Regions from separate parts of the Homo sapiens genome. Here regions 1, 2, 3, 4 and 6 are each reported to be linked to region 5. The links are microRNA targets in miRTarBase. Many come from high-throughput screens and were not tested one by one. Region 5 holds a microRNA gene; each other region holds the end of a gene's coding sequence.

Region 1 (5,061 bases), not on the chromosome of region 5:
TCTGTGTTTTATATAGCAGGTCCCTTCACCTTTTAGAGAGTAGTAAATCTAGCTTCTTTGTACAGACTTACAACTTATCTAAAGATTTCATCTTTTTACCTCATATTTGGGAGAAATTTCATGGATATATGTTGTCTGTTTTCCTATGCCTTCTAGCTCAAGCAACATATAGATCAATGTTAATTTTTTCTTTTTTAGATCTTATAAAAAAAAAAGCCAAAAACCCCACAATTCTTTGAAGAACGAAAGGGGGAAGCCAGCTGCCATGTCATGAGGACACTCAAGGGGTCCATATGGCAAGGACCCAAGGCTGCCTGCCGTGAGCCACCAGGGAACTGCCAACAGCGTGAGCGGGATATGTCGGAAGCAAATCCTCCAGCCGCAGTCATGATGATTAGAGCCCCAGCCAAGATTTTGATGGCAACCTCATGACAGACCCTGAGCCACAGCCACTCAACTAAACTACTCCCAAATTCTTGACCCTCAGAAACTGTGACGTAATGTATTTTATTGTTTTAAACCACCAAGATCTGGGGTACTGGTTATGCAACAATAAATACCGAATACACACATACAATAAAACCAGGCCACGAAGGTTTTCCAGGGGATTCTACAACACGTTCAAGGAAAAGATGATCCCAGTTTTTACGAACCATTCCAGAGAGAACGTCCCCACCCACTTTATGAGGCTGTATAACCTGATACCAAAACCAGTCAAGGATATTATTTTCAATGTATAAGCAAATCTCACTAATGAACAGATAGTAAAAGTTCTAAACAAAACAGCAAGCTGAATTCAGCAATATATTTTAAATACACATAGCATGGCTTGGTTTACTTCGGGAATGCAAGAATGAATTTACTTTTCCAAAATCTATAAATTTATTCACCATTTTAACACATTGAAGAAGAAAAATGATATGAGCATCTCAATAGTTAAGATAAAAATGGATAAAATCTAACTTTACTGATTATTTTAAAATATACTTAGCAAACTCAGACTAGAAACATCACATTTATTGATGAAACATTAGAGACCTACCCTTTGCAACCAAGATAGTTCTAAGGATGCTCACTGTTCTGCTCAACATTATAGTGGAGGTTTTAGCCAGTGCAGGAAGATATTTTAAAACAGAAAAATAAATCAATAATGGGTGTAAGGTTTTAATAGGAAGAAGCAAATTATCAGAATTATTACTAGACATAAGATAATTATGTAAAAATAAATTACATTCTTATATATTGGTAATAAAAATTAGAAAATACAACTTTTTTTATTTTTTTCTTTAGAAAATATAACTTTTTAAAAAGATGCCATCTACAATAGCAATGACAAATCAAAAAAGAGGAAGGATACCTAGGAATAAATCTAACAAAATCAGTGCAAGGTTTCTTTTTTTTATATACTTTAAGTTCTAGGGTACATGTGCACAACGTGCAGGTTTGTTACATATGAATACATGTGCCAGGTTGGTTGGCTGCACCCATTAACTCGTCATTTACATTAGGTATTTCTCCTAACACTATCCCTCTCCCAGCCCCCCACCCCCCGACAGTCCAGGCGTGTGACGTTCCCCGCCCTGTGTCCAAGTGTTCTCATTGTTCAATTCCCACCTATGAGTGAGAACATGCGGTGTTTGGTTTTCTGTTCTTATAGTGAAGGTTTTTATAAAAAAAATTCTAAAACATCACTGAAAGATTTAAAATGACGTAAATAAATGGGAAGATGAACCATGCTTACTGGCAAGAACACTAGGTATTGTAAAAAATACAGATTCTTCCCCAAATTAGTTTTAAATTTACTGCAATTTTTTTTTTTTTTTTTTGAGATGGAGTCTCGCTCTGTCGCCCAGGCTAGAGTGCAGTGGCACGATCTCGGCTCACTGCAACCTCCGCCTCCCGGGTTCAAGTGATTCTCCTGCCTCAGTGTCCCAAGTAGCTGGGATTACAGGCACCTGCCACCGCACCCAGCTAATTTTTGTATTTTTAGTAGAGACGGGGTTTTACCATCTTGGCCAGGCTGGTCTCAAACTCCTGACCTTGTGATCCACCCACCTCAGCCTCCCAAAGTGCTGAGATTACAGGCGTGAGCTGTAAGTTCTATTAAAATCCCAGCAGGGTTTTTCAATGGAGTTGACATGCTGACCCTGAAATATTCATAGAATTGCAAAGAACCAAGAATAGAAGAAAAACAAGGTGGAGAGATGACCCTATACCAAAAATTATTAAAGCTCCAATAATGGAGACCGTGAGTCTGGTATGGGACTAGACAAGTAGACCAATGGAGAACCCAGAAACCAACTCCCACAGCTGCAGAACCCAGAAACAAATGCCACGATCCAGCTCTCCTGCTCCACATCCACCTGGTGGTGTTGGAGGATCCATTGCTCTGGATTGTGAGCACAGAGTCTGGCCACCCAGGGCTGAGGCCATCCGCAGGGGAAGACAGACTGATGTGAATGTAACCTCCAGTCTGAGAAAGTTCGGACTTACCCTTATACACAGAGAAAAATACCAACTCAAAGCTCTTCTTTAGAAATCATGATGCCAATAATAATTGCTCATCCTTTAGTAATAATAGCTAACATTCATTAACATGTATTGCCTGCAGGCCGCTGGGCTAAGTCATTATATGCTTTATTGCCTTTAATTCTCACAAAAACTCTACGAAGCAGGTACTATGTTATCCTGTTTTAAGGTTCAGGAAACCAAGGCTTAGAGAATGTAAGCAGGTGTCTTACCCAAAGTCCCATGCAGTTAGTAAGTGGTAGAGCTGGGATTTGAACCCACAGTTGTCAACTCGCCAGCCCCTGTTTTAACCACTGCCTCTCATAAGCACAGACATTCAATTAAAGCAACAAAGGTTTTACGGCTTTCAGTTGGAAGAACAAATGAGACTGTGACAGCAGCTGAACTAGAATCAAGCTTATCATTATATTCATGAATACCAGTCACATGTTAACTGCTCCATAAATGCTTGTGAAATGAGGTGGCAGAGTTCCAGGAAATGCAAATCAATCCAGTTTCAAAATGACATGTTGCATGGATGTAAAGCAAGTGGAAACTCACAGGAGGCTCAGGAAACACGCTGGACCTACACTGGGCACCTGGAGGGAAGGCTCCGTGTTTTCTTCCTCTCTCAGCCTCACAGAAGTCGCTTATCCTGAAAATGCTCATGCATGAATGGAGTCCAGTGCTCTCCCAAGTAGCCCATAGGTCAGAGAGACATAAAGTGAGAAAAATGGAGCAAGGGAAAAAATGGCAAGAGCTCTACTTCTCAAATAAAATTCGATGAAGAGGGCCAGGTGTAGTGGCTTACGCCTGTAATCCCAGCACTTTGGGAGGCCAAGGCGGGCAGATCACTTGTGGCCAGGAGTTCAAGACCAGGAGTTTGAGATCAGCCAGGCCAATATGGCAAAGCCCCGTCTCTACTTTAAAAAGTACAAAAATTAGCCGGGTGTAGTGGCACACGCCTCTAATCCCAGCTACTCAGAACGCTGAGGCATGAGAATCACTTGAACCTGGGAGGCGGAGGCTGCAGTGAACTGAGACGGCCCACTGCACGCCAGCCTGGGCCACAGAGCTAGACTGTCCAAAAACAAAAACAAAAAATTAGATAGAGCAACAGCCTATCCTTTCCCTCCAGGAAAAGCCATCATCACTTGGATGGCATGTGTTCCTTTATCCACGCATTGATTTCACAAACATTTACCGGCTTACTCTGTGCAGGAGACAGGCCCCGGCCTGGAGCTGTCCCCTTACTCAGTAGACACTGAAGAGGCCCCTCTCTCCACCAGACGCCAAGCCAGGCACAGCGGAGCACGGATGGGTCCAACACAGTCCAGCGCCCCCGGCAGTGTCAGCGCACACCCGCGTGGGAGCTGGGGAAGGCAGGCAACCACAGTTTACAAACGTCAAGCTCAGTTTCCAGGAACGGGCGGGGGACACAGAGAGGAGGGGTTGCGGGCCTGTGAGAATGAAGAGCACAGAGCGGAGAGGGGGAGGAGGAGGGAAAGGAAGGCGTGGCAGTGAGAGAGAAGAGGAAGAAGAGAGGAGGAGTGGGGAGGGGAGGGAGAGCAAGACAGCAGCGGGTCTGGATTCCCCTCCGAGCCACATCTGGTCAGGTTCTAAGTAATTAGAAGATTTTCCCATTGGTTTACCCAAGGGCTCTCTCTCTGATTAATTTTCGAAAGAGTTGGCCAATTTTAATCATAGCAAACACGATGATCACGGTGATCATGGCCTGAACAGCTAAAAGCAGAAAATAAAACCCCCAGAACGGACTATGATCTTGACCTTTGCCCGTGGTCACCGGCTGGGCCCACACCCAGGGTTCTGAGCTGTTGGGAGCCAAGGCTGGGTGGACAGGGGCTTCCGAGGAGCTGTCCGCAGCGGGGCGGGGAGGCGGGCCCCGGGGGCCCGGGCACTCCGCGTCACCCCCCGGCAGGGCCCAGAGCGGCAGGCCGGCGTGCGCCCCAGGGCCTGCGCACCGTGGGGGCTCTTCCCCGCCCACGAGGCCTAGGTGCTGCCGCAGCCACCCCAGGAAGGGCCCCAGGCCACAGTCGCAGCGCCAGGAGTTGTGCCCCAACAGGACCTCCGTCAGCCGGGGCAGAGCCCCAAACACGTCGCCAGGCAGGGTCTCCAGCTGGTTGTGGTCGAGCTGGACGCTCTCCAGGCTGCTGAGATTGCGGAAGAGGGCACGGGGCAGGGCGCGCAGCCTGTTGCGGCGCAGGGACACCTGGCGCAGCTTGCCGAGGCCGCGCAGCAAGCCGTCGGGGAGGGCGGTCAGGCCGTTGGAGTGCAGGGCGAGCACCTGGAGCTCGCCAAGGCCCTGGAAGGCGCCCTGCGGAAGCGCGCTCAGCCGCGGGCTCAGAGTCACCCCTAAGTACCGCAGGCGGCTCAGGTTGCGGAAGGCGGCGGCGGGCAGGGTGCGCAGCTGGGTGCGGTTCAGCCACAGCTCCTGCAGGCCCCCCATCTCCCCGAAGAGCACCCCCGGGAGCTCTGCCAGCGGGTTCTCGAACAGAGTCAACAGAGTCAGATTGTGCGAATGAAGAAAGAGCG
Region 2 (5,072 bases), not on the chromosome of region 5:
TTTTTTTTTTTTTTTTTAGTTTTTGGGGATAGAGCTTTTTTGCTTTGTCAACCAAATTGGAGTGCAGTGTGGCGTAATCACAGTTCACTCAAACTCCTGGGCTCAAGCAGTCCTCCCACCTCAATCTCCCAAGTAGCTGGAACTACAGGCACATGCCACCGCACCTGGCTAATTTTTTCATTTTTTGTAGAGACAGGGTTTCACCATGTTGCCCAGGCTGGTCTTGAACACCTGGCCTCAAGCAATCCTCTCGCCTCCGCCTCTCGAAGTGCTGGGATTCCAGGCGTGAGCCACCTCACCTGGCCAGCAGTTTATATTTAAAATTCTTTATTCAGATCAATGTATCAGGATATCAGGAAATTTTGAAAATGGTAAACTCTTAATCTTCTGCTATACGTAGAAAATGGCATTCTCATTTAGCAAATCACATAGTTCAAATACCCAGTCCCAGCCCTATGCATAAACAAAGAAAGCAATGAATAAAATTAACCACACAGTTTTGCTTTCAACTAATGCTACATGAAGATTAAATAGTAAACAGTTAACCATAATAACATATTGTCTTTATACCCAGAAAGCAGTGGAGGACTGTGAATGGCCTCTGATCATTATAATCAATGTTCATTGACATTGTACTAAGCAAAACATAAATAATAGGATTAATGTTTTTATGTTATTAGTAATAATCTGTAACATATATCTAAATATTACCAACTACATTTTTTATGAGTTTATAAGTAGTGCTGTCTTATATACATTTATTAAGAGAATTCATTCTTTATATCAAAAAGGTAAAAAAATTACTATGATTATGAACTATTAAATCTGATGTAATTTTTTAAAGTAATCATCTAATTCTTAATAATAAAACATTTCTCTCTTCAGGTGCGGTACGGGTCACTAAAATACAAAGTGAAGAAACGACCACAAGTGTATTTTTAGTCATCTACACGTCAAATATCCCAAGACAGATTATGCTAAATACATCGACTTCATCTTCTAACATGATATATTCAGGATTTACACATTAAAATGATTATTTAAATTGTGGCAGTGATGGGGTTTACTTTCATGAATTTAAATTGTTTTTATTTCTGTAACAATTGCTTCCAAATATTGACTACTAAAGGCAGTTCTGCAAGATGTACTAAATATGTATATTAGAAATTATAGAAAATCATGTTGTCCGTTTTCAAATTCATCAACAGCCTAGAGTGCCTGAGATATAAGATGAAACACAAATCCACAGTATACTTGAAAGGAGCCTTTTTACGGTTCAGGATAAATCAGCCTTTGTGATGTACTGTGTTTACCTCCTTTTGTGTTGTATCTGGTAATTAAATAGGCCTCAGATTCAGCAGTGACATAACAAGGACATAATGTAAGATAATAAAGTAGGTTTTATATATTCTTTAAATTTTTACTTATATAATACTTTCTAGTTTTTCCACCATCAGCTGAAAGTTTTTGAAACAAATATTTGAAAACCAGGTATCCACACATAGCACTTTTATTCCTGACTAGTTTTGCACACTTGAAAATTGTTTACTTATTTTACAACTGTTTTACTGATGCTATCTTTATTGTTTTTGCCGTATTCTGACATGTCAAATCTATGCCTTGAATTATATCATCTCTTTTCCTGTGGGTTTCATTTGTTAAATTCATTGGATTTTAATAATATAAAAGTATAGCTAATTGTTCAGTTTTAACTATTTTTAATTATCTTCTTAACAAATAAGAAGTTGCTTTAAACATTAACCAATTTTCTATATTTAGCTATACAGAGTAATTGAACTTAACATGTTTTTGTCAACACCAATTACATTTTCAGCTTTTAAAAATGGTAGCTTTTGTGAAATAGAATCAGTGACCAGTATAGCACTTAGATCCCTTCTAACTCATATAATTTTTCTCAGCCAATCCATTCACAAGCTTGGCATTGACATGTGCTGCTAGTTTATAAACTGGCATTGACGAAAATCATTTGAATCTCTTCTGGCTGAGATAATTTGCCAATGCAAAATACAGTTGTCATTAATCCTGCACATTAGAAATTATTAGAAACATATTACTTTTTAACTTTAAATCTCAAAGAGATTTTGAGTTATTGAATTCTTAAGGCTTTCTTAGCTTGAACTGATAACTATGCATTATGAACCCTAAGTCAATATATTTTTGGTGGTTTTAGTGATCAGTAATCAAATTTGTACTTATTATGCTTGTTCAGGTAATTTACTTGACTGTTCTATTTGTTTGTCCAAAAGATAAAATGATGAGAGAGATTCGAGAGGTCTTTGATCTGTCTCCCTTTTAAGAAATGAAGCCAGCTGGTAATGTATATTCAGGACTTCCTCAGAGTATTGGCCAAGAACATAATGTTTACACAGGAGTACCTTGGTATAATGCATACATTGTCTCATGATACTAGTCATAAAATATTTTATGGATTATTTCACATTCTTCATATATAACAAGTAAAATTAATTCAGTTTTCTTCTCCCAACGTTTAATTCTGAATAACTCTATCTACTTTACCCTAATTTTTAGCCTCTTAATTTCTGGAAGGACTCTAATTTCTATTCCAAATTTCTATGAATTCTAATTGTAAATTATCGGAACAGAGTTTTATTTATATGACCTGGTACTAGACTTCTTAATATAACTGTTACACTGTCCTTGTCTTTCCTACTCAAAGACAGTATCATCTGAAGTTGCCTAATAAGGTCATGTGAGTCAAGAACTTTATCTGTGGGAGCTGATTTGCACCATTTTACCTTTTTTTTTTTTTTTTTTTTGAGACGGAGTCTTGCTCTGTCACCAGGCTGGAGTGCAGTGGCGCGATCTCGGCTCACTACAACCTCTGCCTCCCGGGTTCGAGCGATTCTCCTGCCTCGGCCTCCCGAGTAACTGGGTCTACAGGCCCGTGCTACCACGCCCAGCTAATTTTTGTCTTTTTAGTAGAGACAGGGTTTAACCATGTTGCCCAGGATGGTCTCCATCTCTTGACCTCGTGATCCGCCCGCCTCGGCCTCCCAAACTTCTGGGATTACAGGCGTGAGCCACCGCACCCAGCCACCATTTTATCTCTCTAAAGTCTGGTCCCAGTATTAAACCTATTCTTTAGTAAACTCATATTACTGTTCTAAATTGAAGAAATTATTTATTACTCTGTACTTCTAGACTCAAAATTCTTTATCAAAGATAGTCTCAAAGAGGTAGTACAAGTCCTGTTTAACTGCACTTTTTCACATTCACAGTGCTTCCTCTGATATCTTTCCTTACATCATTATACACTGTTGATATCATTTTACTCTTCTTTCTCTTCTACATTTCTTAAATTTTGGTTCTTTTCCTGTACATGTGTTTTAGCGGGGCCCTTTTCTTTGAACTTTGTCTAATTAGCCTGTACATTTTTGTTTCTTTTAAGGTAGAACAGATCTTTTTTTGTTTCTCCTTTTAAGTCTACTGGTTTTAAAAGAGGTAAATGTATCCATAGACCACAGTGCCTTGCTTTTTCCTCTGCCAGCACATGGAGCACGGGATTAGATGCACAAACCTATTTAGGGAACTATTTTGGTAGATGTTTGAGTTTATACAGAAATTGCAGCTGGTATTTTATTTTGCTGTACATTTACTCAACTTGTCCATTAGTATTTAACTATTTCCAGAGTTTGTTTAGGAGTAAGAATTGACCCATTCGTTAGTTTACCATATTTTTTCCTGGTATAAAAAGGAGCCAGAAATAAGCCTTATTGCTAAATAATTAATTATGTAAGCCCACCTAGGTCCTGCATAAGATCCCCCTCACATACTTCACAATATATATGTGTGTGTGTGTGTGTGTGTGTGTGTGTGTGTGTGTGTGTGTATTTGGCTAAAAAATTATACTGCCAAAATTACTGATTATAAATACTTGACTACACTGATTGATGGGACAAAATGATTAAAGTATTTTCAGGGATCTTATTCCATATGTCACCACCAAAGATTTCTACAGTGTTATAAAGTATATAAATATTCCAAATTTCTGTGGTTAAATATTTTTTTCTTTTTTTTCCTTTTTTAGAATAACACAGTCTGTGCTTTCCAAAAATGCTTGAACTTTTATGTTGTTAAGAAATATATAATGATATCTTACATTAAGCATGAGTCTAATTTGTATTAATTGGGATGGACTAAATTTTCATTTGATTATCAGGAAAATTAAGGAGTTATATATTTAAAAGCAATTTTCTGTGTTTTCTTCTTTGTAAGTTGACTCATTTGTGAAGCAATTAGGCAAATTTTGAGAAGATCATTGTTATTGTGGTTTGCAGTATATATTTCTTAGTAAATATCACTTAAGATTAAATTTTTCAGAAAGAAAATTATAGCTTTTTTCCCAAAATATTTTTAAGATTTAATCTTTTTGTAGTATGCTACAGATTTAATTATATTAACTCTTTTTTAAGACATTGACCATGACTTAACATTTTGCCTTCTAACACCTTTTAAATCTATGTACTTTAATAGTTAAGAGAAAATAAGTTTGCAGATTTTTAATAATCTGTTTGTAAAAGGCTATCTCTAAGCCTAGTATGTGGGTAATTTTACAGGTGTGTTTTTTGATAACTTTAATATAAAATAAACTCATTTTATTTGTGGCAATTCGCGTTTCTTTTTTTATGCCAGAGTACATATGTTGGATTCCATGAATTGGTATTACTTATTATTATGTGTTGATTAAATATATGCACACACTTAGGATTACAGATCACAGAGCAAATTATGAAAATCATAAACATTCTGGTATGGTCATCCATAGGATTATGAAAAAGAAATACTGAATTGTTAAATTTGGATGTTAGAAAGGAAAGATAGGAAAAACAATGAGTACAGAAATCCTCACCATCAATTTGGATGGGTTAGCTGTCTCAGGCATAAAATGTAACACAAAATTCAGATTTATGTATCCTGGAAATGTTCTGGGGTTCCATCTGTTTTAAAGTTAGACGTCTGTCTGCCTCACATTTAAGCTTTAGAGAGAAATCCTATGTTTTAAGAAGTTTCTTTGTGTTACTTCATTATGA
Region 3 (5,072 bases), not on the chromosome of region 5:
AGGAGGAGGAAGAGGAGGAGGAAGAAGGACTGGACGAGGCGGAGGGCGAGCGGCCCAAGAAGCGCGGGCCCAAGAAGCGCAAGATGACCAAGGCGCGCTTGGAGCGCTCCAAGCTTCGGCGGCAGAAGGCGAACGCGCGGGAGCGCAACCGCATGCACGACCTGAACGCAGCCCTGGACAACCTGCGCAAGGTGGTGCCCTGCTACTCCAAGACGCAGAAGCTGTCCAAGATCGAGACGCTGCGCCTAGCCAAGAACTATATCTGGGCGCTCTCGGAGATCCTGCGCTCCGGCAAGCGGCCAGACCTAGTGTCCTACGTGCAGACTCTGTGCAAGGGTCTGTCGCAGCCCACCACCAATCTGGTGGCCGGCTGTCTGCAGCTCAACTCTCGCAACTTCCTCACGGAGCAAGGCGCCGACGGTGCCGGCCGCTTCCACGGCTCGGGCGGCCCGTTCGCCATGCACCCCTACCCGTACCCGTGCTCGCGCCTGGCGGGCGCACAGTGCCAGGCGGCCGGCGGCCTGGGCGGCGGCGCGGCGCACGCCCTGCGGACCCACGGCTACTGCGCCGCCTACGAGACGCTGTATGCGGCGGCAGGCGGTGGCGGCGCGAGCCCGGACTACAACAGCTCCGAGTACGAGGGCCCGCTCAGCCCCCCGCTCTGTCTCAATGGCAACTTCTCACTCAAGCAGGACTCCTCGCCCGACCACGAGAAAAGCTACCACTACTCTATGCACTACTCGGCGCTGCCCGGTTCGCGGCCCACGGGCCACGGGCTAGTCTTCGGCTCGTCGGCTGTGCGCGGGGGCGTCCACTCGGAGAATCTCTTGTCTTACGATATGCACCTTCACCACGACCGGGGCCCCATGTACGAGGAGCTCAATGCGTTTTTTCATAACTGAGACTTCGCGCCGGCTCCCTTCTTTTTCTTTTGCCTTTGCCCGCCCCCCTGTCCCCAGCCCCCAGAGCGCAGGGACACCCCCATCCTACCCCGGCGCCGGGCGCGGGGAGCGGGCCACCGGTCCTGCCGCTCTCCTGGGGCAGCGCAGTCCTGTTACCTGTGGGTGGCCTGTCCCAGGGGCCTCGCTTCCCCCAGGGGACTCGCCTTCTCTCTCCCCAAGGGGTTCCCTCCTCCTCTCTCCCAAGGAGTGCTTCTCCAGGGACCTCTCTCCGGGGGCTCCCTGGAGGCACCCCTCCCCCATTCCCAATATCTTCGCTGAGGTTTCCTCCTCCCCCTCCTCCCTGCAGGCCCAAGGCGTTGGTAAGGGGGCAGCTGAGCAATGGAACGCGTTTCCCCCTCTCATTATTATTTTAAAAACAGACACCCAGCTGCCGAGGCAAAAAGGAGCCAGGCGCTCCCTCTTTCTTGAAGAGGGTAGAAGTTAGGGCGCCGGAGCCCGGGCCTGGAACGCCCTCACCCCCAACCTCCAGTCTCCGCGTTTTGCGATTTTAATTTTGGCGGGAGGGGAAGTGGATTGAGAGGAAAGAGAGAGGCCAAGACAATTTGTAACTAGAATCCGTTTTTCCCTTTTCCTTTTTTTAAACAAACAAACATACAAAAAAAAAAAAAAAAAAAAAAAAAAAAAAAAAAAAAAAAGCTAAGAGGCGACGGAAGCCGAACGCAGAGTCCGGATCGGAGAGAAAACGCAGTAAGGACTTTTAGAAGCAATAAAAGGCAAAAAAAACAAAAAACAAAAAAACAAACAAAAAAAAACCACTACTACCAATAATCAAAGACACAAATATCTATGCAAGGAGGCTCCACTGAGCCTCGCGGCCCGGCCCGGCCCCGGGATGCCCCGCCCGGCCTGCGGGCCGCCCCGCCCGAGCGCGGATCTGTGCACTTTGGTGAAGTGGGGGCCCGCGCCGCCCCCTCCCCCTCCCCAGGTTCTTACAATCAGTGACTCGGAGATTTGGGGCCCCAGTGCCACTGCCCTCCCCCGCCCCGTCCCCGTTGTGCGTCATGCTGTTTTTTAAAAACCTGTTTCCAAATTTGTATGGAATGGCAAACTGTTGGGGGGTCGGTTTGGGGAGGGAGGGTTTGCATGAAAGACACACGCACACCACACCGCACGCACAAGCAGGCCCGGCGCCGGCGTCCGGGGGGCAGAAGGAGGTGAGCTCGCCGGCTCCTCCTCCCCGCGGCCATTCTGTCCCCTCCTGGGGTGAGGGGTGGGGATGGAGACCTGGGGGCAGCCCCACCCCTGCCCGGACTGTGCCTCGGTGGGTGCCACCTGGCGATTTCCGGTGTCTGGAGAGAGTATTTTTTGGTCCAAGGAGTCCTCTTGGCTTTAGCTGGTGGGTGGGCGGGGAGAGGTCTGAGGGCTCCTACTGGAGGTTCCCCCAAAAAGGGGCAAAAGGAGACCCTCTGCCCACCGGAGGCAGGGGATCAGGCATCCAAATACACGATGCAAAAATGCAATCCCACAGGCGACACACCCACACACTCACCCACACACACGCAATTTTACCTTCCTCTTGTAGCGAAGATGAAACTCCCGTCGGACACCCGAAGTGCATTGCGTGTTTCTGTTCAGTTTAATGACGATTAATAAATATTTATGTAAATGAGATGCAAAGCCGGACCGGTTTCTCACGGTGGCCTCATTTCATTGAGGGGGGAGAGAAGGTTTGAGCTGGGGCTGGGGTGATGAAGGCAGAGTGTCAAGTGACTGTGCAGAGGCCAAACAGAGGGACCCTGGACATTCTTGGGTAGTATTCTCTCCCTAACCACCCCCCATACACCCACTGGGCTATACTAGCTACCCCTCCCAGACCCAACCCAGGCTCGCACCTTCCCAGCACTAAAGCACTGATATCCTTACACTTCTTCATTCCTGAACATGCACAGGCACCTCCCTTGAAAACAAAATACCTTTTCATCACTGAAAAATGATCAAGTTGGGAACAGCCAGTCATTTTACAACTCTCTGCCCACTGTTGCAAAAAGCAAGTGGGCAGAGACAAAGAGACAACCATTTGAATCAGACAGGGGTATTTTTAAACAAAACAAAACAAAACAAAACAAAACATTATAAGGTCATGAAGATGAAATATTAATGAGGGAGGCCCCTTTTTCATCTTAAAATTGTATTTCGGTGGACTCAGGGGAATCGGCCATTTTGGTCTCAGGAATGTTGACATGTTTAGGGGTGTGGACAAGGTTGGAGGAACACCCCTAGAGGTCTGTGAGGTGGCTGAGTCTGGGCGCCCACCCAGTAGAGAGGAGCCTAACCATGTACTCCCTGGGACAGGGCAGCAGGCGCCCACCCAGTCCAAATCTGGGCTGATTTCTTCCTGTCTGGTACAGTTCTGAACAGAGGGAACCCTAAGGGCTTAGAAGGGAGGAAGGGCACTGGGTGAGCATCTCCTGCTCAGACAATGTGGCCTCACAATTCTTTTTTCTCTGAACCTGAGAGGCAGGGGCAGCTCTTAACTGACTTCCCTGATAGAGTCCCTCCTACTCCCCCTGCTCAGCCCTCAGTGCATGCTGTAGCCCTAGAATATTTGAAGAGGGTTCTGAGCCCCAAAGACTCCCATCCTAAAGCCTGAACACATTTAGGAGTCCCCCAAAGAGGCTGTTTCTGATGCTGCTCATTTAAATGATTTCTCCAAACACTGTGACTCATTTTAGGGCTGAAGTGGGGTTTGTAGTGTTGGGGTTGAGGATTAAGGTCAGGCATGCAAAGGCTTTTAAAGATTGGGTCCAAGAACCCAAAATAATATCTCCCTGACAAGCAGGAAAGGGAAAGATTGTTGAAGAAGGAAGTCCTATATATTGAAGGGTGGATCAAATTATACTCTGAACTTGAGCTCATTGCATCCCCTAAATGTCTGTCCTCAAACCTCTTCTGTCCCCCAGTAGAAAGAATACCCTCCCGGTGGTCAGGACAGCTGTCGGCAGAGGCGCCAAGGCCAGGAGCTGTCCACTGTGGCATGCTGACCCTCGTCTAGTGTCTTTTCTTCTGGCTGCAGAGGGAGGTCCATTTGCCTGACCCAGGGGAACATGGAGCAGGAGGCCCTTTCCAATGCTGCACTGGAATTCTCCAGCAGTTTTCAGAACATTTACCAGCATTCTTTCAAAATTTCACTGCCTTCTCTGGAATTCTCCCGGCATCGCCTCTCTAGAGTGAGATCACAGACTAGGGCCTTCATCCCCCGGATGTGTCCCTGTCTTCAGCATCTTAGAAACCTCTGAATCACTCCTATTCATGGAAGAAAGGAGTTGGCCCATCTTCCTTCCCCCTCACTTATTGCAGGGAGTGTAGAGCAAGGCACATACCCCAGATCCTAACCTGCAAAAGTCTGATCTGCACTCATGGCGTGGAGCAAGGCCTGGCAGGGGCAATTGCAGAGAAAAGGAACTTGGCACTTATCCCGAGGCCTGATTCTTATCCTGCCCTGAGAACAAGGTTAATTGGGCTTCTCCCCTACTCAGTCAGTTTCCTAGAACCCGCTCAGAAGTCCAGAGCTGGGCGGGATCCAGGTGGCTTGGGGCCTGAAGCAAAGGACCCCTCCATGTGGCTCTCCTGGCCAGACCACAGACTTCTTTCTATGCATTGTTCTTCAGCTACCCTACGTGGCTCAATTCTGTTTTTGAAGCCAGATTCCAGCCCTTTTAGAAAGATGCTGATGACTTTTGGGCCTCTGTGAGCTGTGATCACATTGGGTGGGGGTGCACAGGTCCCTTTTGGGACAGAAATCCCCCCGAGTGACTCAGCTTCTGGTGAATCCCGGCATCCACACCAGTCGCCCCTTTCCCGATTTCTGACCCTTCCCCCCACATTCCCTGCACTCTGGCTGGCTCTAGCCTCTCATCACCCTCCTCCCCAGTGCTCAACTTCCCTGGCGAGATGGTGTGATGAGCAGGAGAAGAAGATGTGCGCGGACAAGCGGCCCCAAACGTCCCCTCGCAGGTCTCTTTCTCTTGCTTGCTCTCCCGCCTGCGCACACACACCCAGAGATGCTCCAAGAACAGAAGCAGGGGAGGGAGGAGGAAAGGGGCCAGCGCTGTGCCTGGCCTGGGGAGAAGGCACAGAGAGGACGCCCTTCTTGCCCTAGCCTCAGCGGCA
Region 4 (5,072 bases), not on the chromosome of region 5:
CAAGGCTCAGCTTTTTGGATGTGAATCCACTGAGCCAGTGCACACCTTAAAATAAATACCCTCCTATATTCACCCATACTGGTCTCTCTAGTCCTCTGTGACCTGTAACGGTATAAATCCTTATAGTCACAGTGCTATGCTCTTAACAGGTGCTTTAAAAAAACAGCTCTGTGGAATGATTGACATTTACATCTCTGAGCAGCTGAGCCTGGCAAGACCTACCAAAGGGCAAGCAGGATCCTTATATCTTGCAGAATATCTTGCTAAGGAGAGCTCAGGAGGCAGAACAGATGGACACACCTCAAATTCATTCTCTGATATGACCCGTGCTACACCAAGCACCTACTCTGTGCCAAGCCCTGCATTGAAGGCAAGTATGAGACAGCAGACAAGGCCAGATGACCTTGGAAAGCCCCAAGTCCTATGGGGGCAACAGGTATAAATAAACAAGCATTGACATCCATAAAGAATTCCAACCTTTGAGAGTAACTGTGTGTGATGATGTGTTCATAATTTTGATTGTGGAAATTATTACACAGTATATACATATAGCAAATCACATTATATACCTTGAATACATACAATTTTTATTTGTCAATTATACCTTAATGAAGCTGGGGAAAAAAGCTTTCTTATTTGGGTTGATACATCATCTTCAGAGTGTGAGCAATAGAATTATTGCCATAACATTATTATTAATAATTAATGAAAATATTTAGTTATTTAAAGAACTACAACCTTTGAGAGCCCGGTACCAGATGGAGACAGCATTGGGTGTGATTTATGGAAGGTGCTTGGGAGCATCTTCCTGGGAGATTGGGAGCATCATGGAGGGTGGCTTGTCAGCTGAGACTGCAGGGATTTGGAGGACCCGCATGTGAAGAAGGAAGGGAGAGTGAATGGGTAGGGAAGGATTCAAGTGAAAGGCTCCAAGGAACATCATGTTAAACACTGAAAAAGAAACTAGAAATGGAATGGAGTAGAAAGAGAGGCTATCAAGGAAGGGGTTTTTTGGAAATACAGAAATTTCATCTGAAACCTGCAGCGCACCCCACACCCATGACAGAACGACAGGTGCAAAGACCCTGAGCAGGAACGAGCTTGGCCTGCTGGGGGAAGCCAAAGAGCCAAGGAGTCCGGAATGTGGGGAGTGGGGAGCAGAGTCCAGGATGAGGGTAGGGGGCAGGCACTGCACAGACATGCAGGGCAGTGCAGCCCAGCACGCACTCTGAATGTCATGAGATGGCCCAGGGGAGGATGATTGAGGTGAGGGTTGGGGTCATATTTACGTTTAAATGTGACTCTGCCATTTCCCACATCATCAACCTCCATGTGGCTGAATTCACTGGACAGTCCTGGGCCTCCCATCATGTAACCCATCAAAACCATTTTGCATAGTTGGTGGCTCCCCTGCTCTAGAAACAGTCTTCACCTGACTTCCAGGGACTCTGTGCTCCTGAGTTTCCTCAAACTCCACTGGCCGCTCCCTGCCAACCTCCTTTGCTCCGTCCACATTTCCCTAACACTGTGACACTTGGCTTTGTGGCTCAGAAGGTGGTTCTCTATCTTGCTTTCACTAATTATTTTGCATGTTATACCTAGAGTCCTCCCCCTACCCCAGGCAAGTATTCCAGTGTGTTTCTTAAGTGTGTCTATTTGTATGCATTCTTGAGAAACGTGCTTTTCTCTGTAATGTGTCATGTTTCATTGTATTGCCCACCTAGTGTCTTCTCAGGGTATAGGTTCTGTCTCAAACAGGACTGTGAGGCCCTTTGGCCTCATCCTCCCCTCCCCTCCCCGCCACATTCTGGGTCTTCCTGGCACCCCAGATCAGCTTTGTCTGCCCGTGAGACACGGGGGCCACACAGGCTTTGCCTCAGGCTGCACCAGGACATTCCCCAGAGCTGAGTCCTGTCCACACAGCCTGCTTGCCGGAAACCATGCAGGACCCATCTTCCTCCTGCTCTGATCAAACCCCAAGAACCACATCACCGGGGGCCATGGCAGGGATGACCTTCAATGAAAAAGAACCATTTGCTTATTCTCTTCACAACTGAACACGAGTGAAGGGAAATGTGCATCCACTTAAAAGTTCGGCTCCTCTCTCCACAGACCAATCCCCTCCACTCCTTCACTTTGTTCAAATTCAGTCACTTATCCATACTCCAGACATGGCCTGAGCATGCCCTCATGCCAGTCTCATGCAGACACCATGCAGGAAGGGCACAAGATAAGGCATAGGCAGCCTAAGGGCAGCAATGCGTAAGGAGAGCACACAGAACTCAGGGAGGAGCCAGAGGTGGCCACTGCCTTTGGTCCTAACCCTTTTTGGGGCCTCAGGGCCCCGCATGTAAAAATGGGCTTCCTAAGAATATCCACCTTGGTGAGATGTGGTGAGGAATGAACATGGCAGTGGTGTGGCTTAACATAGCTGCTAGTAACAAGAAAAACCTAGTCCATGAGACATCTGCTCCACGTGGACAGGATGGGGTGACCCCGAGGGGAGGATACTAACTTCCCCCGGTGGTGGGGGTGGGCAACCAGGGAATGCTATACAGAGCAGGTGTCATGTCTCTGGGGTTTTGCAGAGAATAACTAAGCATAGGGTAGTTGCTCCTTGAGTTTTTATTCATTGTTTTAGCAGGAACTATTAACAAATAAAGGCTTTAGTTTCATACAAACAAACTGACAAAAAAGATCTTATTTCTCTAGAGGGTAGGGAAAGTATAAAATTCTGAATTTTCATGTCGAGTGTGAGCCAAGTTAGAGGAACTTGGCCACCTGCAAACCACTCCCTCCCTCCATGGGAAGGAATCTGAGGCTTCCTAGGTGACCAGGAGCCGGGCTTCTTTTGTTGCCTTAATTTCCTTTCACCTGAGAGAAAATGAAAGCCAGGGTCTTTGTGCTCCAGGCCAAGGCCCAGATGCTGGCTGCCTGCTCCCCAGATGAGACTTCCTGGGCTGCCTCTCCCAGCACCATGTACCCTAGAGAGAGGCCAAGTCCCCAGTGTTCCCCTGGGGCCCATGGAGGCCCCTGCCTGAGCCTGTGGTCCTGGGAGCTGGGGAGAAGGTAGAGATGCTGCTGTCAGAGGTCCAGGCTAAGGACAAGTGGGGCAGGTAGGGCAGGTGCTGCTGGCCATGGATGGAAAGGCAGGCAAGTTCCAAGACCTTAGCAGGCCAAGGACTGCTCAGGCCCCTTGGGAGCAGACCCGCTCCCCAGACAGTCACCTGGCAAAGGCAGAATCTCCTCATGACGTCTCAGAAGCTTGTCCAACACCAGAAGGCAAGCCCCGCCTATTTAACATGAGGCCATAGGACCAGCCTCCCTGGATCCGAAAGGGCCACTCACTCCCTCCAAATGCACTCAGCCTGCAGGGGATACAAGGGACCAGGGAAAGAGAAAGACTTGAGGGCCTCTGTCTAAGGGGCTGGCCATCTGTGCTAGGACAAGTTGCTGCTTCTGCTCCAGGAAGCCCAGATAGGACTGGACTGGACTTAGACCACTTACCCCAGAAGTCCAAAAACCCAATCTCTGCATGTCTCTGAGTGGTCAGGGGGCTGGGATTCTAAAGCTGCTGGTCAGTCCCTAACTCCAGCCTACCCTGATGGGCCAGGTAAGCCAACTCACCCTCAGTCATCTTCTGGGACACATGAAGCAAACAAAATAGCCCTGTGGTTCTGTCTTCACTTTTCAGACAATTGCCCACGGCTCAACAAGAGCTAGTGGGTTAATCCCCTAATTTCCAGTAACCTCAGGCCTTCAGGACAGAGTCCATGGCCTCATTTCTGAATCTGCTTTGTCATTGTTTGAGCCTGTTACTGGCATGAGACAACGGTGGGGGAGGGGGTATGTCACAGGCTCCTGAGTCAAAGCTCCTAGTTATACATCTAGGTCTAAACACGTGGCTGTGGGACCCTGTGGAAGTTATCCAGACTCTCTGTGCTTTGCTTTCCCCCATCTATAAATGGGATATAAAAGGTACTACCTCATCATGTTGCAGTGAAGAAAAAACGAGATCAGTTATTAGCTGGGTCCCTCGCACATTACAGGTGCTTAGGAGACATCAGTCCTGCTCTAACCCCTGCCACATGCCTGGCCTGGGTGGGGCTTTCTGGAGACCCTGGCTCAGGGCACTGGCTGCCTGTGAAAGGGGGGTCCAGGAGCCCAGGCCCACAAGGAGCCCTGAGGCCTGTTGAGATGTGCTGACCTCACCTGGCACAGGCAAGGGGAGGGAGGGGGAGCTGGTCAGGGTCCAGCTGTTGGGGGAGACGAGTGAGGGAATTCACTCTTGACGGGGGTGCCTTTTCCACTAAATTAACATTGCCCCAGTCTGAGGGAGCAGCAGGAGAACACCATGCCCATCCTTACATCAAGATCCAACCTCCAGCACCAGGAAGCCCCTGCCTCCAGCTGGCCATGATGATGACAGGACAGGCTAAATGAGAGGGACCTGGCTTTGCCCTGAGGGTTGGTGGGTGGGGAAGGCGATCAGCAGCCAGGCGTCTGGGGAAGAGGAGCATGGCCACCAGGTGCCTCCAGGGTGAGACCAGGCCCAGCTCCCCCTGGCTCTAAAATACAAGCTTCCTGGGAACCTCCCATGGGAACTCGCTTCTTCCGAAATGGCCGTAGCATGCTGTCTTCTGGTAGATGGGCTTCTTCAAGTCCAAATCCCTGCATGTCCAGCAGAAAGGAAGGGCATTGGAAGATGGAACAGGAGCAGGGTTTCTTTCTCCATTTCAAGGACAGGAGGGAGCAACGAACTGTAACACAGCCCTCCTCGCATGGCACTACGCCTCCCCACCGCAGTTGCGCGCACCCATCCTATCTGTGCCATACCCTGGTCTCGTTTTATAGCCCCACGGATGCTTAGAGGTTCAGGGACCAGGATCTAACTCCAGCCTTCCGGTGCTTTTCTCCTCCCACTCCACTTACCTGGCCCAGGCCAATGTTGACACCACTAAGCTCTAGAAACGGAATAGACTTGCTGACTTGATTCCCAGCCATTTGAGCTATTTGGCCTTATATTAATAATTATTTTCCTAAGATCCCCGCCTGCCTCCCAGTTGCTCAGA
Region 5 (5,072 bases):
AGTAGAGATGGGGTTTCACTGTGTTAGCCAGGATGGTCTCGATCTCCCGACCTTGTGATCTGCCCGCCTCGGCCTCCCAAAGTGCTGGAATTACACTGCGCCCGGCCCAAGATAATGTATTTCTAAAAACTTTCAAGTGACGCTGATGCTGCTGTTCTGAGGACCACACTTTGAGTAGAAAAACTTAGACTAGACAGAAAACAAGTAATTAGAGTACTGATGTGATGCTTTGTATGACTGGGCAAGCAGAGGGTGCTTAGAGTCTTCGTTTTGTTTTGCTTTGTTTTTCACTCTGCAAAACAATCTATGTTCGGTTAAAGCATTTTTGCACAATTTTTATTTCCTCCATAACTACATAAATATAGATTTCTCTGATTCATGAGTTTATCTTTTGCCATTTAATGATTATATACACTAGAGAGCAGTATCTATTTTATGAACAGAAGAATAAGGGGCCGGGTGCAGTAGCTCACGCCTGTAATCTCAGCACTTTGGGAGGCCGAGGCAGGTGGATGGCCTCAGTTCAGGAGTTTGAGACCAGCCTGGCCAACATGTTGAAACCCCATCTCTACTAAAAATACAAAAATTAAGTGGCAGGCACCTGTAATCCCAGCTACTCGGGAGGCTGAGGCAGGAGAATCACTTGAACCCGGAAGGCGGAGGTTGCAGTGAGCCGAGATCGCGCCATTGCACTCCAGCCTGGGCAACAAGAGCGAGACTTGGTCTCAACAACAACAACAAAAAAGAAGGAATGTAACATCATTATAAAGAAGACATAAACAAGTATTACATATTATTTACTATAATGAGAAAATATCCAAAATAGGTCACTGAAGTAGATTCTCCCAATTGTGAACAATAGTTTTTATTGTAAGTCAAAATAGGAAATATTTTCCAGAGGTTGCACAAACAGATTAAACCACAGAAATAACATTATTTCAGATAAATGGTCAATCCCTCTGTGGTCTTAGACATTTAGTTTTGGGTAGAGAACATGGAAAACTTCCTGAAGGAAGTGATTTCTAAGCTGAGAAACATCAATAGGCACTAGCCAGGTCTGTAAGTCTCTAACACCCATGCTTTAACTCATATTTTGGATCAAGTTTTTGTATTCTTTCATTTTAGTGTTTGTTTTGTTTTTGTTTAGTTTGCTATAATATTTTATCTGAATGGAGACTAATATCCTTTGAGGAGAAACAATTTCAAGTTTATTAATTAGGTTTCTGTTTAAGACTCCATCATAATATACCATTTATTAGTTTATAATTCAGATTCTAAACCTATTGTAAGAGTGCCTACTTGCAAAAAGCAAAGAACCAGAGGTTCAGGATTTGTGAAAATAAAAATACTGTAAAATATAAATGTTTAAATATTTTCTTTTCTTTTTTTTTGAGATGGAGTTTCGCTCTTGGTTGCCCAGGCTGGAGTGCAGTGGCGTGATTTTGGCTTACTCAATCTCCATCTCCTGGGTTCAAGCGATTCTCCCGCCTCAGCCTCCCAAGCTGCTGGGATTACAGGCGCCCGCCACCACACCTGGCTATATTTTTGTAGTTTTAGTAGAGATGGGGTTTCACCATGTTGGCCAGGCCGTTCTCGAACTCCTGACCTCAGGTGATCTGCCCACCTTGGCCTCCCAAAGTGCTGGGATTATAGGCATGAGCCACTGTGCCCAGCCAAATGTTTAAATGTTTTCACTATTAGATATGTCTAATAAGAACTAAAGGAATATCTTCTTGAAATTGAAAAGGAAATAATATTTTTCTATCCCATAAGGATTGTTGGAAAGGTTTAAAGAGACAATAATATACGCAAAGTGCTTACTTAGCAAGATGCCTAGTATAAGGAAGGTAGTATAAGAAAGTAATGTTTTGTTTTTGGTGTCCATTTGGGGTTCTCTAGTAGTTTGGACAGGTTATTTTAAGAGTAATCCTTTATGAAAATTATAATGTACACATTTTATTTTGGGACAAGGATTCTAATCATTTCAATAATTTATTTTTAAGCACAGTTTACTGGGGTCTCAACAAAAGTCACATATTCAGAAGTAGTATGGCCTCTAGGCTAGGAGTCTAGAGACCTAGGTTTTAGTTCTAGCTCTGTTAATCCTGTTTTACTTTGTGCCAATCATTTCAAAAAAGGATGCTTTACTAATTGCTCTGTAAGGTGCTTTCTAGTCTGCATCGGTTTTGTTGAGACTGCAATAGCAATGTATCCAAGGTCCAAACTAATGATTTGCCATCTGGTTTCATTTAGCAAAGTTAATGTTCGGTCATCAAGTACATATTCAGTAGGAAGTATTCTTTTTCGAAACAGTTTCTACAGTCATTTTTTTTTAACCCTGTATAAAATGAGTTTATTTTGGACTGTTAAAAAAATTCAAAACTTTAAAATTTGTTATTTTTCAACTAATGCAAAAGAATATATTAGAAACATCTGAATAAAAAATGATTCTGGGCTGGGCACGGTGGCTCACACCTTTAATCCCAGAATTTTGGAAGGCCGAGGTGGGCTGATCACCTGAGGTCAGGAGCTCGAGACCAGCCTGCCCAGCATGGTGAAACCCCGTCTTTACTAAAAATACAAAAATTAGCTGGTGTGGTGGCGGCTGCCTGTATTCCCAGCTACTTGGGAGGCTGAGACGGGAGAATCGTTTGAACCTGGGAGGTGGAGGTTGTAGTGAACAGAGATCATGCCATTGCACTCCAGCCTGGGCAACAAAGAGCGAAACTCCATCTAAAAAAAAAAAAAAAGATTCTGTTCTTTTCTGTATTTACTGATGTCCCTAAACATTTTACATTTTTTTTTAAAATTTAGGTTATCTCCCTATTAAAACTATTTACAAGTGACAGTGATGACTCCTGTTACTCAAAATTAAACCAAAATGAACATCAAACTGGGATTTATTGGGGCCCAGAAACAAGAAGATATAATTCATTCATTTGAAAATGATAAAGAGGGACTGAAATAATAGTGAGAAAGCTGCCCTGAGACCAGAGTAACTTTGTTTCTTTGATGTATCATTTACAGTAATAACCCAACGGGGTGCCAAGGGGCTGCCACTCTTTGGCTATGCTTTATTGTCCATTCACACTTTGTCTCCATGTTTCCTTCCCCCTTCCTCCTGTATACATGTATACAGAAGGGGGAAGGAAACATGGAGACAAAGTATGCATATACATATAGAAATTCTGGAGCAGTAACTTACTGATGTATACAACTTATCGAATCTCTCTGAGTTATGCTACTACCCCTAGTGTGTTGGGCATGTTGGCTCAAACTTCCTTAATCAGGAAACTTTGGAATGGGTTTATTGCTAGCTGTCTTTGCTTGGGTTTAATCTCAATATTTCTGAGGTGCAAAGTGCACTAGATTGAGAGTTAATAGATCTGAATTTTAATTCCAGTTTTGTTCCCAATGATCACTGTGACCTCAGGCACATCATTTCACCTTTCGTCGTTCATTCAGTTTATCTTACCTATTCATTAAAAACCAATCTGCCTGCCCCCAGTTGCTTTCTAGTGGTAGTGATGATGGAGGTGGTGAGAGACACAATAAATACATAAGCAAATAGGAGAACTATGAAGGAAGGAAAAGTTAGTGATGTACTAGGGATAGTGTACTTTTGATAGGGCATCTAGGATTTCTCTAGATAAGTGAAAAATGAAGAGGTTTAACTGGATGCTAAGGGGTCTTGCACATTAAAAGGCATGTGTTTCCGTCTTTTCACTACTGTGTTCTAGGAAGGCCCACCAATGCCTCTAACCTGTAAATAAATGCAAATCTATTTAAATCAAGTGATACATCAATTTTATGTTGCTTGATTTGGAAGTAATCCGCAAAGAAGCAATAGCTAAACATTTTAGTGTTGTTTGGGGAGTAGCTGCTGAACAATAAAGACCAAAACCATAACTAAAAAACAAACAAACAAACAAAAAAACGCAGCCCGAGACAGATCAGAAACTAGGTGTATGTAGGGCGCCAGGTTATGACACTGTTCTCTGACATCCACAGGGCGCAAAAAGAAAACCTCACTAGTCAGCTTCGCACGTGCTCTGCGCAGGGGCTCCTGCGAGGCCCTAGTCCCTCCCTGGGAGCTAAGAGCAGGACGGAGGCTGTACCTGACTGCTGCTTGGAGGGAACCCTGGCTGAGTCCAGGGAGGAGGAGCCAGAGGAGGGGCCGATTGGAAGCAGCCACCTCAGCGAAGCTGCAGGATTTCCGCAGGGCGGGAGCTGTTTATCTCCCGGAAGAAAACGGCTCCTGTCACAGAAGTCTCGTGATTGCTCTGGGAGCTTTGCTTAGACACTTGAAACTACAGGAGAAAGAAGGATCTAGCGAAATATGGCTACAGAGAGCCCTGCTACGCGTCGGGTCCAGGTGGCAGAACATCCTAGGTGGGGGAGAGGAGACGCCGGGCTTTGGGATCTGCTGGGTTGGCTACGTGTAGATCGGGTCCACAGCACTTGGCTCCTCCCTTGGGGCGCTGCTTTTGGTCCCGGGGAGCAAGTGGAACCCTTGGGATTCTATAAGGACACGTGGCTGGGCTTGCAAAAAAGATCACGCCGCAAACACATTCTACCTTGACTACTACGAAGGGTTGTATGTTTTTTTCTTCATCCATGCAGATTCTTCTTTTCCTTTTCTTGTTGTAATTAGTGTACTCTTTCTACTGGGCTTCAGCAGAAATGCCCATATCCACACTGAACTCCTCTCTTTGTCTCGCATGCCAGTTGATACTGCTTTTTAAAAGTCTTCTTTCTAAATATTAATTGAAAACAAACACAAAAACCTTCTTGGTGTCTGCATCCTCTTTAAAACAAAACAAAACAAAAACACGAGAATCTCTGAACTGTCACTTAGGGAATTAATTTGCTGGCAGTCCCTAGCTACACAGTAACTAATAGTTTAGTGATGTCTCGGGGAGGATCTTTTCAGTTACAGGTACTTTGTAGAAATACTTCGTTCTGACTAATGGGGCTGAGGTCTCATAAAATGAAGTCTGTCACCTGCTACATTAGCGAAGGGCTTTCCTGACTCTCTGCTTTTGCTGTTTTTCTTTTCTTTTCTTTCTTCC
Region 6 (5,072 bases), not on the chromosome of region 5:
CTCCTTTCCCCCCAATCCCCCGACCCCAGAGCAAGGAGGAGGTGATGGCTGTGCGACTGCGGGAGGCGGACAGCATGGCTGCGGTGGCCGAGATGCGGCAGCGCATTGCCGAGCTGGAGATCCAGGTGATCGGCGGGGCCGGGGTCGGGGGGCGGGGGCGGGGGCAGGGCCCGGGGCAGGAGCGGGGCCGGACCCCAGGCCCAGCATGGCACTGGCCCCGCGTGACCTGGCGCACCCCGCAGAGGGAGGAAGGCCGCATCCAGGGCCAGCTGAACCACTCGGACTCATCGCAGTACATCCGCGAGCTCAAGGACCAGATCGAGGAGCTGAAGGCCGAGGTGAGCCGGCGCGGGGATGCCGGGGACAGGCCTGGGTGTCGTCGGCCTGGGACGAGCCGAGCGCAGGTGCCTTGCGGAGGATGCGGCTGGGAGGGCGGGGCAGAAGGCCGGTCCACGCCTGCAGCGCCGGTCCCCCGCCCCAGGTGCGGCTGCTGAAGGGCCCGCCGCCCTTCGAGGACCCGCTGGCTTTCGATGGGCTGAGCCTGGCGCGGCACTTGGACGAGGACTCGCTGCCGTCGTCGGACGAGGAGCTACTTGGCGTAGGCGTGGGCGCTGCCCTGCAGGACGCATTGTACCCTCTGTCCCCGCGCGATGCGCGCTTCTTCCGCCGTCTGGAGCGGCCGGCCAAGGACAGCGAGGGCAGCTCAGACAGCGACGCCGATGAGCTGGCCGCGCCCTACAGCCAGGGTCTGGACAACTGAGGCCATGCCCAGCGCGCCCGGAGTCAGGAGGCCGCAGCCGCGGGGGGCGCCCGGGCAGTCCGCGTTCTGCTCCCCACCTGCCGCACTTGACAAACTACGCGCCCTCTGTGGCTCGGCCACCCCTAAAGCGAGGCCCGGCGAGGCAGCGCAGAGGGTAGGGTCCGACCTGGGCTCCTCAGGGCCCCGGGGCAGGCTCTCTATCCCCAGCAGTGTTTACCCATCTTGGTCTGTACCCCTCCGGGCCCTCTGGCGTTCCAGGGGTGCCTGGAGGGGCTGACTGCTCTCTTAACAGGAGGGCAGAGGGCAGGGGACAGACGACCCAGAGGTCCCAGCACTGAATGAGCAGGCAGCTCCCACCTCCTGGCAGGCTTCCTTCTGGGACAGGGGCGACATTGCTGGGAAGTGCTCAGGAGGTAGCCGAGGCCTGAGGAAGGAGAGCGCCAGCTCTGGGCTGGACATCAGCACCCCACAACACTCCTCGGGATGAAGTGACCCTTGACTAGCCCCTGGCCATCTCTAGGGGAGTCAGGCCGCTGGGGACAGATGGCCAGGCCGGCCTCTCCTGCCTGGCGCAGGCACCGTGGCCCCTGCAGCGGAAACCAAAGTCCCCCTACTATGTGCGGGGCGCCTGGGGACTGAGTGGCTAACGGGAAGCCTCCCTGCTTCTCTGGGGCCAGAGCAGCTTCCAGGAAGTGAAGAGACCCCTCTCCCCAGTGCCCCACATCTTTCTCTGGGAGACACTCGCGCCCCCTATCCTGGCCAGTGATGGAGGGGTATCTCTACAGGGGTCCTCGGTCTCCATCTACTTCCCTTTCTTCATGTGTTTCCAGCCCCACCCTCAGCCAGAGCCAGGCCCCCAGGCAGGAGCTTCCCAGCGAGCGGCCTCCCCTCACTTCCTCCTGGTGGTCCCGTTGTCTCTGCTGAATCAGAGCTGAGAACGGTGCCAAAATCCAACGATGCCCCCCAGGCCCCTTCCTCCCTTCCCCCGGCCCCCCGGGCCTCATGACCCTGGGGGCTGCCCCCCTCGGTGCTCCCGGAGCCTCCAGTAGAGTAGCGTCACAAGCAATCTCCCTGGCGCTTCCTGGGTGGGGACCCCTGCTCCGTCCCCGCTTCCTAGCTGCCCACTTTTCAGTGTTACGAAGCCTGGGGACCGGGGCAGGCACCCACGGGGCTCTCCACACGCCCCCTACACTGCCCGCCACCATTTTGCACACTGCCTGTTCACATGTCGCCCAGGCGGGAAAAATGGAAAATAAAGTGTATTTACACAGTCACGGACTGGCCTGCGGGCTGGGAGGAGAATCACAAGCAGCGGTGGGTGCCCAGCCCAGGGACCAAAAACCGTGCTGAGGGAAGGTGGGGCTGTCCTTGCCCTTAGGAGCTCCCCACAGTCTCATAGAATGGGGGTGGGAGAGGATAGAAGGGCATTCAGTTTGGGGGCAGGGCATGATTTCCCACCTGGGTGAATCAACTTGGGCCTCCCCTGAAGGAGAGAGGCATGCCGAATCGCTGGGCTTCAGGAAGCACAGGACCCGGTTGCATTCATTCTGCTCACGCCTCCAGGGGTAATGTGGGGTACTCTGCCCTGTGCCTGGCTCTGAGGGGGTCTCCAGTGGAGCAGAGGAGACAGGCACTGGGCAGGGGGAAGCCTGCACTAATGTGGTAGGTGCTCAATAGACAAATGTGCAGGGAGATCAGGGAAGGCTTCCTGGGGGAGGTGGTGTCAGGGCCTCTTCGAGGGGTAAAAGCATAAAGATCAGACCAACAGGAGGCATACCATACCTAGGAAGGAAGAACAGGAAAGCCTGGGCGTGGTCAGACTAAGAAGGGACTGCTTACGTCAGGTGAGGGAGTTTGGGCTTTGAACTGGGGGCCATTGGGAGCCCATGGAGGGCTTAGGTAAGAGAGCCCCATCAGATGGACCACAGAGTCTGTGAGGGGGCCAGTGCAGGGAGGACAGTGAGTAGGGGGCAGAAATAGTCCTTTGTGGGGTTCCCCACAGAGCTGAGGCAGAGTCCCAGCTGCTGGGTGGCGGTGGGTGGCGGGGTGGAGGACAGAGCCAGGAGTGGCAAAGCAAAGCTTCCTAGAGGAACTCAAGGCAGTCGACTCACTGAAACGTCCATCTCCTGGGTTCCAGTGATTCCCCTGCCTCAGCCTCGAGAGTAGCTGAAACTGTAGGCACCTACGACCGTGCCTGGCTAATTTGTTTCGTTTTGTTTTTTGAGAGGGAGTCTCACTCTGTCACCCAGGCTGGAGTGCAGTGGCACGATCTCGGCTAACTGCAACCTCTGCCTGCTGGTTTCAAGTGATTCTCCTGCCTCAGCCTCCTGAGTAGCTGGGACTACCGGCGCCTGCCACCACATCTGGCTAATTTTTTTTTTTTTAGACGGAGTTTCACTCTTGTTGCCCAGGCTGGAGTGCGATGGTGCGATTTTGGCTCACTGCAACCTCTGCCTCCCAGGTTCAAGCAATTCTCCTGCTTCACCCTCCCAAGTAGCTGGGATTACAGACATGTGCCACCACACCTGGCTAATTTTGTATTATTTTTAGTAAAGATGGGGTTTCACCATGTTGGCCAGGATAGTTTTGAACCCCTGACCTCAGGTGATCCACCCGCCTCCCAAAGTGCTGGGATTACAGGCATGAGCCACTGTGCCCGGCCCAATTTTTGTATTTTTTTTTTTAAGTAGAGACTGGGTTTCACCATATTGGCCAGGCTGGTCTCAAACTCCTGACCTCAGGTGATCTGCCCTCCTCGGCCTCCCAAAGTGCTGGGATTACAGGCGGGAGACACGGTGCGCAGCCCCTAGAGGCAGAAACATAATTGGGTTCAGGCAGATGCTAGCCAGGACCTGCCCTCTGCACCCAGTGTGGGTCCACAAAGTGCTCCCTACCCCCATGCCTCACAGCCAAGCAAAGGACATGACACTGCTTGTGTACTGAGACAGCCAAGTCCCATGTACTGTCGTATCACATGCCACAGCTCTCCTGGCCACACATGGTGCAGATGTAACCCTGGGGACCCTCACAGTCACTGTCCGTGCCTCCTGCTTCCATGGTAATTCCACCCCCGCTGGCTGCCCAGGTCAGGGCAGGACCGCAGAGGAATTGTCTGAGGTTCTGCCCTGTCCTTCCCGGCAGCTGGCCTTGAGCCCCAGCTCCCCAGCATGTCAGGAGTCGGCCTTGGGCTTGTCCCAGAGTCTGGAAACAAAGACACCCAGGTCCCCAACCCCACCAGGGCCCAGCTTGAGAGGACACCTCTATGGTTTGCCACAAAACTCTGACCGAAGGACTGTGCTGGCGTCCTCCTCCTCCACCTCCCAGGGGTGCAGGTGGCAGTGCCCCTCCAGGCCAGAGCCCATTTCTCCTCAGACCCCAGGCTAGGAGGTGCCTTGTCTGGGATGGGGACAGGCAGGACTTGCTGGTCTGTGACTGACAGGAACCTGGTCACAGGATGGTGTGAGGGTACTGGGTCCAGGGGCAGAGGCAGGGCTGAGGGCCCAAGGCCAGATCCTACTCTGTCTTCTTACCCACTTGGGGATGTCACCATCATTCTTGGTGCCATGCAGGAGACCCGGGGGAGGAAAGGCCTAGCAGGGGAGCTCTCTGCAGGGGCACTGGGAACAGGGAGAGACTGGCTAGGGTTTGAGAGGCTCCAGAGCTGGGGGTTAGGGTTAGGGTTCATTGGGGGAGGAAGGGCAGGAAACTCTGATTGGAGGGGGCCTGTGAAGATGTTTGGGAATCTGATAAGGACGCCTGAGGAAGGGGTTAGGGCAAGGATGCCATGGGGGTGGGATGCACCAAGTGGCACTTGTGTAAGGACACTTGGAGACAGGGTGCAGTGTGAGGACTCCCCCATCTCCCACCTAGACCTGGGAGAGGCCACTTCTTCCTGCAATCCCCTACCAGGGCAGTTGGCCCGGGACCCTGCACCAGCCGAAGGGCCATGGGAAGGGGTCCCCCATCCTTGCCTCAGTGCCCTCCAATCTTCCCACCTGTTCCCCAGGAGTGCTAGTTCCCCGCATCGAGTTTGAAAAGTGTGTCAGGCCAGGCGCGGTGGCTCACGCCTGTAATCCCAGGACTTTGGGAGGCTGAGGGCAGATCACCTGAGGTCAGGAGTTCAAGACTAGCCTAGCCAACATGGTGAAACCGTGTCTCTACTAAAAATACAAAAATTAGCCGGGTGTGGTGGCGCGCACCTGTAATCCCAGCTACTCGAAAGACTGAGGCAGGAGAATTGCTTGAACCCGGGAGGCAGAGGTTGCAGTGAGCCGAGATAGCACTATTGCACTCCAGCCTGTGCAAAGAGAGC

What was found. The annotated mature microRNA hsa-miR-4716-3p reads AAGGGGGAAGGAAACAUGGAGA and lies in region 5 at 3,096-3,117, opposite strand. An mRNA with a match to its seed (bases 2 to 7 or 8) in the 3' UTR can be bound and repressed. Matches are read on the target gene's strand: a 7mer-m8 pairs with bases 2 to 8, a 7mer-A1 pairs with bases 2 to 7 and ends in A, and an 8mer does both.
Region 1: the mRNA of GP5 is a reported target of hsa-miR-4716-3p. Seed matches in the 3' UTR shown: 7mer-m8 at 3,997-4,003.
Region 2: the mRNA of REEP3 is a reported target of hsa-miR-4716-3p. Seed matches in the 3' UTR shown: 7mer-m8 at 3,802-3,808.
Region 3: the mRNA of NEUROD2 is a reported target of hsa-miR-4716-3p. Seed matches in the 3' UTR shown: 7mer-m8 at 1,231-1,237, 7mer-m8 at 1,293-1,299 and 7mer-m8 at 1,875-1,881.
Region 4: miRTarBase lists MAT1A as a target of hsa-miR-4716-3p. Seed matches in the 3' UTR shown: 7mer-m8 at 4,234-4,240.
Region 6: the mRNA of EVI5L is a reported target of hsa-miR-4716-3p. Seed matches in the 3' UTR shown: 8mer at 1,366-1,373, 7mer-A1 at 1,507-1,513 and 7mer-A1 at 1,943-1,949.

What each region holds. Positions count from the first base shown.
Region 1 is chr3:194,392,444-194,397,504 of GRCh38, forward strand. It overlaps GP5 (glycoprotein V platelet), which reads right to left. Exons shown (of 2, transcript NM_004488.2): 2 at 2,378-5,061. The coding sequence ends at 4,157. Among named protein-coding and RNA genes, the nearest start is that of GP5, 4.3 kb to the right of the region's middle. RefSeq lists a silencer at 4,724-4,773.
Region 2 is chr10:63,619,928-63,624,999 of GRCh38, forward strand. It overlaps REEP3 (receptor accessory protein 3), which reads left to right. Exons shown (of 8, transcript NM_001001330.3): 8 at 886-5,072. The coding sequence ends at 942. LOC105378329 (a long non-coding RNA gene) reads right to left here. Exons shown (of 4, transcript XR_001747467.3): 1 at 4,892-5,072. Among named protein-coding and RNA genes, the nearest start is that of REEP3, 100 kb to the left of the region's middle.
Region 3 is chr17:39,601,281-39,606,352 of GRCh38, reverse strand. NEUROD2 (neuronal differentiation 2) reads left to right here. Exons shown (of 2, transcript NM_006160.4): 2 at 1-2,585. The coding sequence ends at 902. Among named protein-coding and RNA genes, the nearest start is that of NEUROD2, 4.1 kb to the left of the region's middle.
Region 4 is chr10:80,269,213-80,274,284 of GRCh38, forward strand. MAT1A (methionine adenosyltransferase 1A) reads right to left here. Exons shown (of 9, transcript NM_000429.3): 9 at 2,608-4,671. The coding sequence ends at 4,569. Among named protein-coding and RNA genes, the nearest start is that of MAT1A, 18 kb to the right of the region's middle. RefSeq lists an enhancer at 3,726-4,925.
Region 5 is chr15:49,165,984-49,171,055 of GRCh38, forward strand. It overlaps MIR4716 (microRNA 4716), which reads right to left and starts at 3,170; the gene lies at 3,087-3,170. GALK2 (galactokinase 2) reads left to right here and starts at 4,264. Exons shown (of 10, transcript NM_002044.4): 1 at 4,264-4,392. The coding sequence starts at 4,340. RefSeq lists enhancers at 3,676-4,580, 4,212-4,451.
Region 6 is chr19:7,862,943-7,868,014 of GRCh38, forward strand. It overlaps EVI5L (ecotropic viral integration site 5 like), which reads left to right. Exons shown (of 20, transcript NM_001159944.3): 18 at 30-125; 19 at 243-338; 20 at 482-2,034. The coding sequence ends at 760. Among named protein-coding and RNA genes, the nearest start is that of PRR36, 8.9 kb to the right of the region's middle. RefSeq lists an enhancer at 815-1,523 and a silencer at 3,521-3,815.